4 linked regions of the Homo sapiens genome follow. The protein of the gene in region 4 purifies or fractionates together with the protein of the main gene of each other region. This does not show direct contact. Each region holds a gene or a part of one and is shown on either strand. Other genes may lie near its edges.

Evidence for each region. Proteins that work in one complex are often made in the same cells at the same time.
Region 1: the proteins of CCT8L2 (region 4) and KIFC1 purify together in Homo sapiens (affinity purification with mass spectrometry; one large-scale study listed by BioGRID and IntAct). This does not show direct contact.
Region 2: the proteins of CCT8L2 (region 4) and SIX4 purify together in Homo sapiens (affinity purification with mass spectrometry; one large-scale study listed by BioGRID and IntAct). This does not show direct contact.
Region 3: the proteins of CCT8L2 (region 4) and ADNP purify together in Homo sapiens (affinity purification with mass spectrometry; one large-scale study listed by BioGRID and IntAct). This does not show direct contact.

Annotation. Positions count from the first base shown.
Region 1 is NC_000006.12:33,390,620-33,394,622, reverse strand, and holds the start of KIFC1 (kinesin-like protein KIFC1), read right to left. Parts: upstream 2,801-4,003; 5' UTR 2,638-2,800; coding exon 2,626-2,637; intron 1-2,625. UniProt on the Homo sapiens protein: Minus end-directed microtubule-dependent motor required for bipolar spindle formation. May contribute to movement of early endocytic vesicles. Regulates cilium formation and structure.
Region 2 is NC_000014.9:60,709,039-60,711,695, forward strand, and holds the end of SIX4 (homeobox protein SIX4), read right to left. Parts: 3' UTR 501-2,657; downstream 1-500. UniProt on the Homo sapiens protein: Transcriptional regulator which can act as both a transcriptional repressor and activator by binding a DNA sequence on these target genes and is involved in processes like cell differentiation, cell migration and cell survival.
Region 3 is NC_000020.11:50,903,938-50,907,437, forward strand, and holds part of ADNP (activity-dependent neuroprotector homeobox protein), read right to left. Parts: intron 913-3,500; 5' UTR 829-912; intron 65-828; coding exon of another isoform or gene 60-64; coding exon 1-59.
Region 4 is NC_000022.11:16,590,251-16,594,285, forward strand, and holds CCT8L2 (T-complex protein 1 subunit theta-like 2), read right to left. Parts: upstream 2,561-4,035; 5' UTR 2,301-2,560; coding exon 627-2,300; 3' UTR 501-626; downstream 1-500. UniProt on the Homo sapiens protein: Possible molecular chaperone; assists the folding of proteins upon ATP hydrolysis.

The DNA.
Region 1 (4,003 bases), on a different chromosome or scaffold from region 4:
GTAATCCCAGCTACTCGGGAGATTGAGGTGGGAGGATTGCTTGAAGCTGGGAGGTAGAAGTTGCAGTGAGCTGAGATCACACCACTGCACTCCAGCCTGGGCAACAGAGTGAGAGACTCCGTATCAAAAAAAATCTCCATTTGGAAGTCTAATAACTGACCTCTTGATGTCCAACCCTGCTTTGAACTTGCTCCTTTTGCAGCTTTCTCCATCTCAATTGATATAACTCCATCTTTCAGTTGCTCAAGCCAAAAACCCAGAGTCCTCTCTTTCTCCTACATACCACATCTAATCTGTCAGCAAAGCATGGCTGATTGTACCTTCAAAATATATCCAGAATCCAATCACTTTTTACTGTTTCTTCCACTGCTATCACCCTGACCTAAGACACCATCATCTGGCACCTAGATTATCATAAACCAGTGGTTCTCAACTGGGGGTGATTTTATCCCCAAGGTGACATTTGACAATGTCCAATGCAGTCCTGTACACTGTCAGATGCCTAGCAGCATCCCTGCCCTCTACCCACTAGATGCCAGTAGCAACCCCCCACCTAGTCACGACAATAAAAAATGTTGGCCAGGTGCAGTGGCTCATGCCTGTAATCCGAGCACTTTGGGAGGCCGAGGTGGGAGGATCATGAGGTCAGGAAATTGAGACCATCCGGGCTAACGCGGTGAAACCCTGTCTATACTAAAAATACAAAAAATTAGCCGGGCGTGGTGGCAGGCGCCTGTAGTCCCAGCTACTCGGGAGGCTGAGGCAGGAGAATCGCCTGAACCCGGGAGGCGGAGGTTGCAGTGAGCCGAGACCGCGCCACTGCACTCCAGGCTGGCGACAGAGCGTGACTACTTCTCAAAAAAAAAAAAAAAAATGTTGCAGGGCACGGTGGCTCATGCCTGTAATCCCAGCACTCTCGGAGGCCGAGGCAGGCGAATTGCTTGAGCCCAGGAGTTAGTTCCAGACCAGCCTGGGCAACATGGCAAAACCCTGTCTCTATTAAAAATACAAAAAATCAGCCAGGCATGGTGGCAGCTGCCTGTAGTCCCAGCTACTCAGGAGGCTGAGGTGGGAGGATCACTTGAGCCCAGGAAGTTAAGGCTCCAGTGAGCCATGATCATGCCACTGCACTCCAGCCTGGGAACAGAGAAAGAGAACCTGTCTCAAAAAAAAAAAAAAAAAAAAAAAGGCAATGGTGCTATGGTTACGAAAATCTGGTGGACCCAACAAATCTTATCTCTCTGCTTAAAATCATCCAATGATTCCCCATCTCACTCAGAGTAAAAGTCCTCACAACGACCCCCACAAGGACAAACTGTGATCAGCAACCCCACTACCCATTACCTGACTTCCTTTCCCACAACTTTTCCCCTTGCTCACTTCATTCCAGCCACACTTCCCTCCTTACAACTCTTTAGGGACTCTGCTCTAGCAGATTCCCTCTGCCTGAAATGTTCTTCCCTCACTATCTGCTTGTCTGTCTCCCTCACTTCCTTCAAGTCTTTATTCAACTCATCTTTTCCATGGGGGTTACTGAGACCACCCTATTTAATACTCTAACCCGCCAGTTGGCCTCCCCTATGTCCTCAACCTTGAATTTCTCCTTTTCTCCACAGCACTTACGGCCTTCTGGCAGTTATATAATTCATTTATTACATTTATTGTCTGTATCCCCATAGAATGGCAGCTCCACGATGGCAACGATTTGTCCCTTGTTCACTGCTGCATCCTAAGTACCTACAACCACGCCTAGCATGTAGTAGGTGCTCAATAAATACTTGATTAATAGATCTGAGAAGGCTTTTACTACTTCTTACTGTCACATAATACTACTCTGCTCTCTGGTTGTCACGAGAGAAAGAATCTCTCTTAAGGCTGAATCCTAACTTCAGGGAAACCTGAACGTGAAATACTAGTAAACAAAGGATTCAGGCAGACCTTTCCTGGCACCAGAGATAAGTACACTCCAGCTGTCACACACATTCATCTCTCTTCACTGGAGACAGGAAGCTGCATATGGTTGTGGGGTGCAGCAGGGCACCATTTAAGAGAAAGAACTAAATCAATCAGTTTCATTGGGCAGGAATCTGCACAATTTGGGAAAGGAGAGAGAGAATGAGAAGTCTTTTGGCCCAGATTACCCTACTCTCCTTCTCCCTTTCCTACACTCCGAAGCAGCAGTGATAAGGAGAGGCGATTAACACAAAAGGACCTCAGCAAGGATGTGGCCTCAGACACCATGTCCCCAAAAGGAAGAAGTCATATCAGAACTCTCCCTTCTTACACACTGCAATCACACCCTGAGTAGGAATAAAGAAGTGGAAATGTGTCAGACGAGCCTGAGAATTCGAAATGAGAAATCTCGGAGACATGAAAGTTAAGGGAGGGGCTCCAGAAACTTGAAGCTAGGGGAGGGCAGACAGACGTGCCTTCCGACCTCCCCGGGTGCTCTAAGCCGTCTCCACTCCTGCCTCCGCCCCTTTCCACTTGTGCGGGGGCGCACGGACCTTCGCTCTCCCGGTAGACATGACAAAGGCCGACCGGGAGCCGGGGGCGCGACAGCATCGGAGCGGTCAGCCTTCGTCCCCATCCCCAGGGCAGGACACCTGCGCCGCCCCTACTCACCTGCGGATCCATGTCCACCTCGGTCCCACACGCGCCGGGGGAATGCAGTGGAAGAGAACTGGGTGCCGGGGATCCTGGGACTCGCGTTCTCTCGCCCGCTCGCGAAGCAGGGTAGAGAACTCGCACGGCTCCGGCCGCTACCAGCCCCGCGCCACACCCGCCACTTTTGAATTCCAACGGCCACCACCCACTCTCACCGCGCTCTGCACGCAGGGACCAATCGTCGCTGTCGCCACAGCCGAGGGCCAATCGCAGCGTTCTCCGCCACCCGAAGCCACACCCCGCCCGACAGGCGCCTTGTCTTTTCTGTTTCGCAGGCGCAGGAGAGGTAGGCGGATTAATTCCACTTCCGGTGCCACTTATGCTTCTCACCCCTCCCCTCCTCTAGCGGCAATAGTGCTGGACTTCCGCTCGGCTCCCCGCCGTCGCTCGCTACGTCAGAAAATGCGTGGACGTCGCCGCACGAACGCAACTGGCCAAGCGAAACTGGTGGCGGCCGGAGGAGAAGGGGCGGGGACGCTGGAGGAAAGAAATGACGCGTGCGCAAACGAGGACCCGTGCCGGGAGACAGGCGGGACTAGCGCCTCCTGGTGACTGCAGTAGGGAGCGCACTTGTTTTCCGTCGACGTGATTGAGGCTCCAGCGCTGCCTCTCCTGGTCGTGGTTGACTGGGCCCGGAAGTGGCTCCTGGAGCCCTCACGTGGATGTGAGTGGCCTGGTCTGTTCATTCCCTGGTAATGTTGCCATTTCTCACCAAATTTAGGAATTTTTGCGCTCCATTGAAGCCTGACAGTGGGGATTCAAAGCTCAGGAAAGAACTTTTCTTTATAGCCCTCTTCTCTCAGCCAGCCTACTTACCTGGGTGCTGTTACTGGTACTGGGCTCAGGGCCTTTGGAGTCTCGAGCTCGGGGAAGATTTACTGCTTCCATTTATGGAGTATTTTATGTTTTGCAGATTGTGCACCTGTATTATCTCGTCTTTTAATCACGAAAATTCACTGAGTTCCTACATTGTGCCACATTCTTTGTAGAGATGGATGGAGACAGGTTCAGAAAGATTACACAATAAGGTCACACTGCTGGTTAGGAATGGATCTAGATTCCATTAGCTTCAAAATCCAAGCTATTTCTGTTAACTCACGTTGCCTCTAACAGTCTCGGTGACAAGAGCAACCCCTTACGTGTGAATAGGGTGCTAGTTTGCAAAGTCGTTCTACCATATTTACTCATCCGAGTTTCCATCCAATCCTGGAGGTAGTCAGGACAGGGTTTTATTTATGAAACCGAAAGGCAGGGGCCTCAAGCATATGTTCGGGGATTTGGTGTGCAGTTGGAAATTGGCAGGTCTGACACCCGCGCTGCCGTCTTCTATCCATTG
Region 2 (2,657 bases), on a different chromosome or scaffold from region 4:
CCAACCGTGGTGGTACCAGACTTTGGCTAATGGCAGTGCCCTAGGGATGGGTGATATTGAACTCTTTCAATAAGGTTGAAAATAGGAGGTCTTTGGACCCTTCAATTTAATTCCATTAAACCCTACAGAGTAACTGCCGTGTGCCAAACATCACACTCATCTCTAGGGACAAAAAAACAAAAAACAAAAAACAAAAAATGCTGGGAAGGGGAAGGTACACTTCTTCCTTTTAAGGAGGATGCAATCTAATAATTTACCTCTATGTAGTACAGTTAATTGCATAATTCTGCACAACGACTGACAAAGATTATTTTTCCAAAATCACTCCAATTGGCCTTATAACCATTTGCCAGCTTTTGGAATGTTTGTTTTTTCCCTTCCTCTTCTTCCCTTTTCCAGAGATAAATAAAACCAACATTATTTCTTTTTTCTTTTCTAGTAAGATGAGTCATTCATATTTAAAAAAACACAATATTTCCCAAATAATTTTCAATGCAAGGTATGTATAAATATAAAGTTTATTTAGCATAGTGTTTAGAAAAATAAGTTCACATCATTTCAGAAAACAAATAAAACACTTAATTGTCCAGGCATAAACCCCCATTACAGTACGACATACATACTTCAGATCTCTTTGGTTGGGTAATTAAGCACAGAAATGTTCTGGGACATGCTCTGTGTGCCATCACCTAACAGTGCAGTAAAGACTCTGTTACCCCACCCCATGATATACATTCTGTATAGAGTTTCTCTTTGTGTAAGGCACAGTAAAACCATATTGAGTATATAATTGGTTGCCTCTAAACATACAGTACATGCAACAAAATAATATTTTTGAGAACTCTGAAAGCCAAAAGAGTCACATGCTATACAATTTTGATTAATAAAATGTATGGTGGTAAATTAACATAAAATGTATCAATTAGATACAAAGTAACTGCTAGGCTCTATTATCTAAGTTTTACAAAGAGTTTAAAATATCTTTTGTGAAATGTAACTATTTCCCCATAGTTTTCCTGAATTATTTTTATTATGAGATGATCTGTCAAAACATTTTAAAGAATGAAGAACTTGTGGCTATGTACTAAAGCACACTTGTCTAGCATGTAGCAGGGCAGGCTGCCACACATGCCCAATAATCCAACTTTTAACATGCAAGATACAAGGGCATACACAGAGAGATTTAAGGTCAGTGTGCAATTTAACTATGGATTTTTACCTATGGCTATAATATCTACCTGCCTTTCATAACACAAGAAAGGCACTGAAACGTGTACAATTTAAAAAGTCTTTTCATTACTATAAATATACATGAGATATAAAGCAGTACAACACAGGTGCTCTTGCTTGATTGAGGAACAAATGCACCTTCTCTTTAAACAATAGACTGTCCTTTACTAGATTTAACTAAGAGCTAAATGCCAAATTCTGGCTGATAGAGTGCATAGATAGGCTTACACCAAAAATCCCACAGCCAGCAGCATGGGTTGGGTTTTGCAGGGAGTCATTTACCCCTGTTTTGATCTTCAGGGATCATTAGAGGGTCATTTGCAGCATTTTCAAGCATTGGTTTATGTAAGAGGGAAATTCTGCCACATGACTCCAAGGGTTCTGAGTCTGGCCCTTGGTATGGCAAAAGACATTTGCAATTCTGTGCAAGGAGATCATGGGGTTTATCTTACTCCATTCACATATACATGGGCTGCATACCAACTGGCCCTTATTCAACTGAAAGAATAGAAAAGAACAATAAGTTCTTTATACTGTGCATTGATTCTTACCTGGTATATTGTGTAGCTACCTGAAGTAATTGTAGGGTTATAATTACATCATGGTGGGAATATGAATGGGTTTCCTAGGTAAGTCTTAAGTTTTGTGCTATCTTTTCTTTTTCATAAGGGAGAAAAGAGGAAGAACACTGAATAAAAGAGAGGCTTATTGTATTTTCGGAAAACATATAAAACATTTCCAGTTATATATATATATATAGCATATATAACTAAAAACCTCCCCATCTCTCTTGTTGGATGGGTATTTGAAAATAACAAACTCTTGATATCTGCAGCAATCAAGTGGAAAACATCATTTTTATGTAAACTACACTGCAGAGCCATGTAATTAATCTCAGTAACAGGATCAGCACACACCCAAAGAAAAAACAAGCTCTATGAGTAGTAGTAGAGTGGAAAAGAACTCTCAAACACCTGACTTTGTAAAACAAAACAAAAAACATGTAGCTTCAGCAGTTTAGGAACATTCACCAATTCTATCAAAAATGATGTAGTTCTTTATCAAAATGATGGGAGAGGAATTCTTCATAGGGTTCTTGATATATGCCTGCAAGTTCCATTTATGATAACAAAAGTTAAATCCTCTATGTCCCTTATTCAACATGCTTGATTGATTGACATGTAGAGAACTAGAGTGGGCCCTTTGTTCTGATCATAAAAAAAAAAGCAAGATGTGGCCAGGCACAGTGGCTCATGCCTATAATCCCAGCACTTTGGGAGGCCGAGGCGGGCAGATCACGAGGTCAGGAGATCAAGACCATCCTGGCTAACACGGTGAAACCCCGTCTCTACTAAAAATACAAAAATTTAGCCGGGCATGGTGGCAGGTGCCTGTAGTCCCAGCTACTCGGGAGGCTGAGGCAGGAG
Region 3 (3,500 bases), on a different chromosome or scaffold from region 4:
TTCACAGTTTTCCGGGCTTTTCTTAAACTGCCAAGATTGTTGACAGGAAGTTGGAACATAGTTTCTATTGGAAAAAAAAATTTAAGTCAAAGTCAAAACACGTACAACTTGTAATATTTACTAATTCCACTGATGATAGGATCATAAAACCTACCCATCTGACAAAAAAGGTGCATAGATATCCTCATCTAGTGTGTACACACACAGACACACACCTGCTTTCATGTGCATATGGCTTGATATATCCATCCATCCATCCTTCCTTCCTTTTCTTAAGACAGAGTCTTACTCTGTCGCGCAGGCTGGAGTGCAGTGCACTCATGGTTCATTGACTGCAGTGCACTCACGATTCACCATAGCCTCAACCTTCTGGGCTCAAGTGATCCTCTCACCTCAGCTTCTCAAGAGGAAGGGACTCCAGGAGTGCGCCACTATGCCCAACTAATTTTTAAAATTTTTTTGTAGAGACTAGGTCTCACTATGTTGCCAAGGCTGCTCACAAACTCCTGGACTCAAGCCATCCTCCTGCCTTGGCACCCCAAAGTGCTGGGATTATAGGCGTGAGCCACTGAGCCGAGCACATATCTACTATATTTTGAATACTTAAAGCAGGCAGGCAAAATAAGTACTCTCTGATTTTCCCAGTTTTTAACAGGACATTTTGACTATGAGTCTAATCTGGCATAATTCTGATAAGACTTAACAACAGTTCAGTAATGAACTTCAAGATGAAAATTAGAGAAATACTAGCAATCAATTATTTTTAAATCAAGTGTTAGTGCTTTTCTCATTTTGATGTTGAACATCTGAAAACAGAAAAATGCTTACCAGTTCATCATCATTACAGTTTTGAGTGCCAGGGTAAAGAGGTTTTTGTTGAATTGGAACTGTCCTGCCTACTGCTACGGTATTCTTTAAAACAAAAACAAAAACAAAAACAAAAACAAAAAAACCTTAAGTTTCTGTATACTCCCCAAACTAAATACAGTAATGATATGTGACTCGACCAATGCATGCCCCCACTCCACCCCTGCCTGCAACGTACCTGGGCAAAGGTACTCAAAAATGTTAACTGTTACAGACTTTAAGGAGGGTACTTTTGAAAAAAATGAAAAGCCTGTATGTGTCTAAGGGAACTCAAAAATTATTTTAATGACCTAATACATTAAATTAGAAATTCATATCAACTTTCCCAAGTTCCTTAAAACAGAAGTTTGTCTTTAATGAGAAAATAAAATCAGTAAAACCTGGGCAGCTGAGAATATGTATGGTTTCTAATGAGATCAGAAATGCTTCCCATAATATGGTAAAAATTTATCAATTTAATAATCCAAATCTAACACAATTTCGCAGGATATAAAGTAGTTCTAAAACCCAAAACAGCAAAAACAAAAGACAAAGCACCAGGAATTAAAATTTAATATATGCAAATCCAGTTTTCTAATTAACAAAGGCTGTTACTCTGTAATACCAATATCATCTGTAAATGGCAAGTCAACTAATCCAAATGTAATAAAATGCTGCCTCATTTATTATTCTAATCCAAAATCAACGTTAACTATAAAAAAATGGAAAATAAAAGGAGAAAGAGTGAAATCTACCAAAATCAAAGAGTAACCCCTAGAAATTTTGAAACTGGGTACGTTACTCTAACTTAGAAGTCTCAAAATATTCTATATGAAGTACCAAAGTCTAATTGGGGCCGAAAATGAAAAGTATTTCAAAAAAACCTTCTAGGCCTTATCATACTCAAGATAGAATTGCTGCTCACTATGAAGCAATGACTATGGTGTCCCCTGCTCTCTCTGCTATGCTAATAATCTGCATATTGTGAAGCCAACTACAGACTTAGAAGTCACTTCTGATATAAATTAAGACCAAATCAATTATTTTTTGTCCAAATTTTATTGCTAAATTGTTTTAAACCATCTTTTGTGGTGGCTTAAAACCAGCAAATTCTTTATCACTTGCTTAATTTAAAACAGTTAGTACACACTGGGCATGGTGCCTCACGCCTGTAATCCCAACACTTTAGGAGGCCGAGGAGGGCAGATCACGAGGTCAAGAGATCGAGACCAACCTGGCCAACATGGTGAAAACCCGACTCTACTAAAAATACAAAAAATTAGCTGGACGTAGTGGCACGTGCCTGTAATCCCAGCTACTCGGGAGGCTGAGGCAGGAGAATCGCTTGAACCCGGGAGGCAGAGGTTGCAGTGAGCCAAGATCGCACCACTGCACTCCAGCATGGCGAGAGCGAGATTCCATCTCAAAAACAGACAAACAAAAAACACATACAGTTACTACAAACCAGGTCTTTTAGAGAGAAGCACATGTTAGAAAAATATTTCAGAAATACAGAAAAGTGTCACAGGCTAATTCTGAAGAAACCAGGTATTAAAATGGATGCCCACAGATACCTAAGACTGGGAAGAGACATCTTGTTTCTCTGTTCATTTCATAAACTCTCTATGGGCCAAAATTCAGTTCTTTGGGAACTTCCTGAGTTAACTCTGCTTCACACTTCATAACAGATGTGTCCAGAAGCCAGCCATTAATGGTTTCCCTGCCTCCTGGATGAGTGGCTCAACAATCTCAGAAAAACAAAGACATAAAGATTTGGAAATGCAGCCACCACTGGGGTCATTAGTCTATAGAAAACATAAAAAAGAATCAAGCGGCAGCTTGGGGGAAAGAAAAACCCATTCTTCTAAGTGCCTACCCACAGCTTAAAAAGTCGGTTTAAGACATTAAGATGAAGCATCTCACTGCCTGGTAGGTATTTTTTTCTGAAAAAGTGAGTATGCCCATAAGGGAACTTAGTTGTAAGAAACTTGTAATTTATAAAAAGCGGTATTTCAGCCACAGAGTTGGTGTTGGGTTTACTTATCTATTTTGAATTTAAAAGGCTTATAAATAAAGCAGTGACACTGCTTACTGGGAAATGCTGTACCAAAAAATGTTATCTTGCTGTAGGCTTGGCAACTAGGAGAAATCTGTATTTTTTTTTTGAGACAGGGTTCCAGTTTTTTTTTTTTGTTTTTTTTTTTGAGACAGTCTCGCTCTGTCACCCAGGCTGGAGTGCAGTGTCACGATCTTGGCTCACTGCAAGCTCCGCCTCCCAGGTTCACACCATACTCCTGCCTCAGCCTCCTGAGTAGCTGGGACTACAGGCGCCACCACCATGCCCAGCTAATTTTTTGTATTTTTAGTAGAGATGGGGTTTCACCGTTTAGCCAGGATGGTCTTGATCTGACCTCGTGATCCGCCCATCTTGTGATCCGCCCATCTCAGCCTCCCAAAGTGCTGGGATTACAGCCACCGCGCCCGGCATTTTTTTTTTTTGAGACGGAGTTTTGCTCTTGTTGCCCAGGCTGGAGTGCAATGGCACAAATCTTGGCTCACTGCAACCTCTGCCTCCCAGGCTCAAGCAATTCTCCTTCCTCAACCTCCTGAGTAGCTGGGACTACAGGCGCGTACCACCACATCGTGCTAATTTT
Region 4 (4,035 bases):
GAATGCTCAAATAGTTGGGAAGAGATTGCTGCACTGTGTTTTGCACGCCCAAAGCCCACATAGGTACTCAGTTTAAAAATCTTAATAGAATTGAATCCTGCTCTTATCATAGGAAAGGAAGAGCATCTGATAGAAACACAAAATGAAAAGGTCAAGAACTGGCTGGGCACAGTGGCTCTCGCCTGTAATCCCAGCACTTTGGGAGGCTGAGGCGGGAGGATCATGAGGTCAGGAGTTCGAGACCAGCCTGGTCAATATGGTGAAACCCCGTCTCTACTAAAAATACAAAAAATAGCTGGGCGTGGTGGCGCGCACCTGTAGTCCCAGCTATTCAGGAGGCTGAGGCAGGAAAATCGCTTGAACCTGGGAGGCGGAGGTTGCAGTGAGCCAAGATCACGCCACTGCACACCAGCCTGGGCAACAGAGCAAGACTCCGTCTCTCAAAAAAAAAAAACAAAAAAAGTCGAGAACTGGAAAGGAACTAAGCGCATGAAAAGAAATTTTATGTTCCTTCATGTTTTTATTTAAAGAAAGTGAATCAAGTACCAAACACGGAATAAAGGCAAACATTCATTTTTGGGGTGATTGTTCCCTTCTTGGCAATCCCTGTTTTATTGAGGGTATCACTAGTTATTCAATCCAAGGATTTTTTTTGTTTCCACAGGAGGTGGGTGTTTCTTTGTCTTCTTAGAGTCAGGATTCCAGATCTCCTGATGTGTGGGACTTTTCTTGGCCACTACGATTTCATCTACAGTCACGAGCTGTAGCACCACCTCAGCCACTGCTCGAAATCCTTGGGCTTTGACTATTAGGGTGTCCCACACCCCTTCCTGGGCCACATTTATTATCCCTTCAGTTCCCACACCCATTAGGAGGTTCCCACCTTGGTGCACTCCACTCATTTCTGCCATCACGTCTGAGACAGCTAAGCCTGCATTCTCTGCCAAAGTTTTAGGAAGATACTTCAGGGCCCAGGCAAATGCTAGGAATGCAGGCCCACTGGGCCCTTCCAATCTGCTTCCTTTATCAGAAAGCATTTTTGCCAAAGCCATTTCTGTGGCCCCAGCTCCTGGAATCAGTCTGGGATCTTGACATAGCTGGAAATAGGCATCAATGCCGTGGTAGACGGCCTGCTCTGCACTCCGCAGCCCCTGGGTGGTGGCTCCCCTGAGAACCACAGTGAGGGCAGGTGTGCCTGTACATTCCCATTCAAATACCACAGCCAAACCATCTCCCAGCTCCTGCCTGTAAACCCTCTGGCACTTGCCTGGCCTCTGGGGAGGGAGCAGACGAGGCAGCAGAGGTGTGTCCAACACCTCACTCAGGTAAATGATCTCCATCCAAGACCTAGCTTGAATCACCACGATGCCATACTTGTCCGCCAGTGTGAGGGTCTCCTCGTCGACCTCCCCCAACACCACTGCCACATTAATTCCTGCAGCTGCTAGCTGGCCTACTTGCTTTTCTAGTAATTGATCGCTTCCTTTACTAAATTGAGCTAGATCAGCAGGACTAGAAAGACGGGCCGTTGCTGGTGCATTTGGATGGGCAGGACCAAAGGGGCAAGCAAAGAGAGCCACCCTGGCACCACTTAACACTGTGGCCATTTGCCCACAGAGCTTCCCAGATATTGCTAACCCCGGGAGGAGGCAGGAATCCTCCAGTGTCCCCCCGGGCAGCGCGCACACCCCAACACGCTCAGGCTTGAAGCTGCCGTCTAGTTCCTTGATAGCCCAGCAGGCGTGGGCCACCAGCTTGGTCAAGTGGTCCATGGGGGACAGGGTGTGGGTATTCATCACAGAATGGAGGGCCCAGGATGGATCTTCCAAAGGCCCCAGAGATTGGATGGCCAGGGAGGGCAGTGTGGCCAGGACCTCTGCAGTGGCCGTGGCGTAGGCCTCCCGGAGCTGCGGGCGAGGCAGGCCAGCCTTCAGCAGCTGCTCTGCCTGTTCCAGCAAGGCTTCCGTCAGCAGAACCACGAAGGCTGTGCCGTCCCCACTATTCTCTGCCTGGGTTTGTCCTGCTTCCCGGAGGAGCCATGCTGCTGGGTGCTCCAGCTCCAGGGCCCTGAGGATGGCAGTGGCACACCCCGTGCACACTGTTTCTCCTTTCATGGTCACCAGGAACTTCTGCCGGCCGTGGGGGCCATAGCAAGGCCGGATGACACTGGCCAGGGTCTGGACTGCAGCCAAGCTGCTCAGCAGGTGGGGCTCCTCCTCTTCTGGACTCCTCGGGCTCTCCCTTGGGTTCAGTGCCAGCCGCTGGGGCAGCTCCAGGGCTGAAGGGACTGTGCTGTCCATGGCCCGCAGAGAGAGGAGAGGCCACCGTGGGTTGCAGAGATGCTCTAGAAACAGCAGCTGGGGCACTCCTGACACCGATCGTTGAAAGTACTCAAGAGGTCAGTGGAAGCAAGGAGCCAAATGCCCATTGATTGGTATCTGAAGACATCAGCACGGACCAGCACTCCACTGTGGGTCCAAGGATGAGCTCCAAAGAGCCCAGTCCTAAAGCCACCCCAGGGTTGATTCTGTAAAGGAACTGGGTCTTGGGGCCTCTCAACCTTGGTGGCTGAAATGGGATCTTTAACTGATGAAGTCACAAAGTGGAAAATGGAACCAGGATAGAGAATGAGGTCACAGAAGGCTGGTTAGAACTGAGGAGGCCCTACCAGCAGGCAAAAGTCAGGCCTTGTCCAGCAATGGAGGTACATGCACCTCTGCACCAGGTTTGAGACTTGTTTAAACGTAAGAGACAATGAGGAGGAGATCAAGTGAAAAACTACCCATTTCACCCTATCTGGAGTGCAGGGGCATAACCATGGTTCACTGCAGGCCCAGCTCCCTGGTCTCAAGCAGTCCTCCTGCTCAGGTTCCCAAGTACCTGGGACTACAGGCACACACCACCACACCTAGCTAGTTTTTTTATTTTTTGTAGAGACAGTGTTTCTGTCTGTTGTCCAGGCAGGTCTCGAATTCCTAGCCTCAAGAGAGCCTTCCACCTTGGCCTCCCAAAGTGCTAGGACTACAGGTGTGAGCCACCACCTCACCCACCCTTTTTTTTTTTTTTTTTTTGAGACAGAGTCACACTCTGTTGCCCAGGCTGGAGTGCAGTGGTACAATCTTAGCTCACTGCAACCTCCACCTCCCAGGTTCAAGCAGTTCTCCTGCCTCAGCCTCTCAGTAGCTGGGATTACAGGTGCCAGCCACCACGCCCGGCTAATTTTTTATATTTTTAGTAGAGATAGGGGGATTTCACCATGTTGGCCATGGTTGGCCAGGTTAGTCTCAAACTCCTGGCCTCAAGTGATCCGCCCACCTCGGCCTCCAAAAGTGCTGGGATTACAGGTGTGAGCCACTGCACCTGGCCTTTTTTTTTTATTTGAGAAGGAACTGAGAGATGATGTCTGTGTTTTGTTTTGTTTTGGTGTTACTTTCTCTTGCAGTACTGTGTAATATTAGCCATGTTTTGCTGTCTGCCTTTGACTTTTTGGGTATCTTATCAGTTTGTGCTTGTGTATCAGGTTTCTTAGGGTGTCTGTTGGTCTTTCAGGGTGCAGGTGTGGGAGGCTGCACAGCGTGCATGCCTGTGCCACGACTCCCAACTCTGCCTCCCTGGCAGAGGCAGGGCAAGACAAGTGGGGAAGGATGCTGACAGCTCACAGACAAATAGAAGTGAACCCAGAGGGGTGAAAAGCAACCAGCCTCCCAGCGGTCAGGGAGGTAGAAGCCTAAATGGGGTCCTGAGATTTAAATGCGAATCGCCTTCCCATCCTAACCTTCAATGCTTACAATTTAAGTCTCTTTTTTTCATTCTCTCTCCTTTCCTCACTTGTCTCCTCTTTCCTCCTATAGAGCCTACTCGGGTAATGATGCTTCTGCTTTAGTTTAACACATATTTAGTCTGGGCGTGGTGGCTCATGCATGTAATCCCTGCACGTTGGGAGGCTGAGGCGGGAGGATTGCTTAAGCTCAGGAGGTTGAGGCTTCAGTGAGCCATGATTGCACCACTGCATTCCAGCTAGGGCAACAGAGTGAG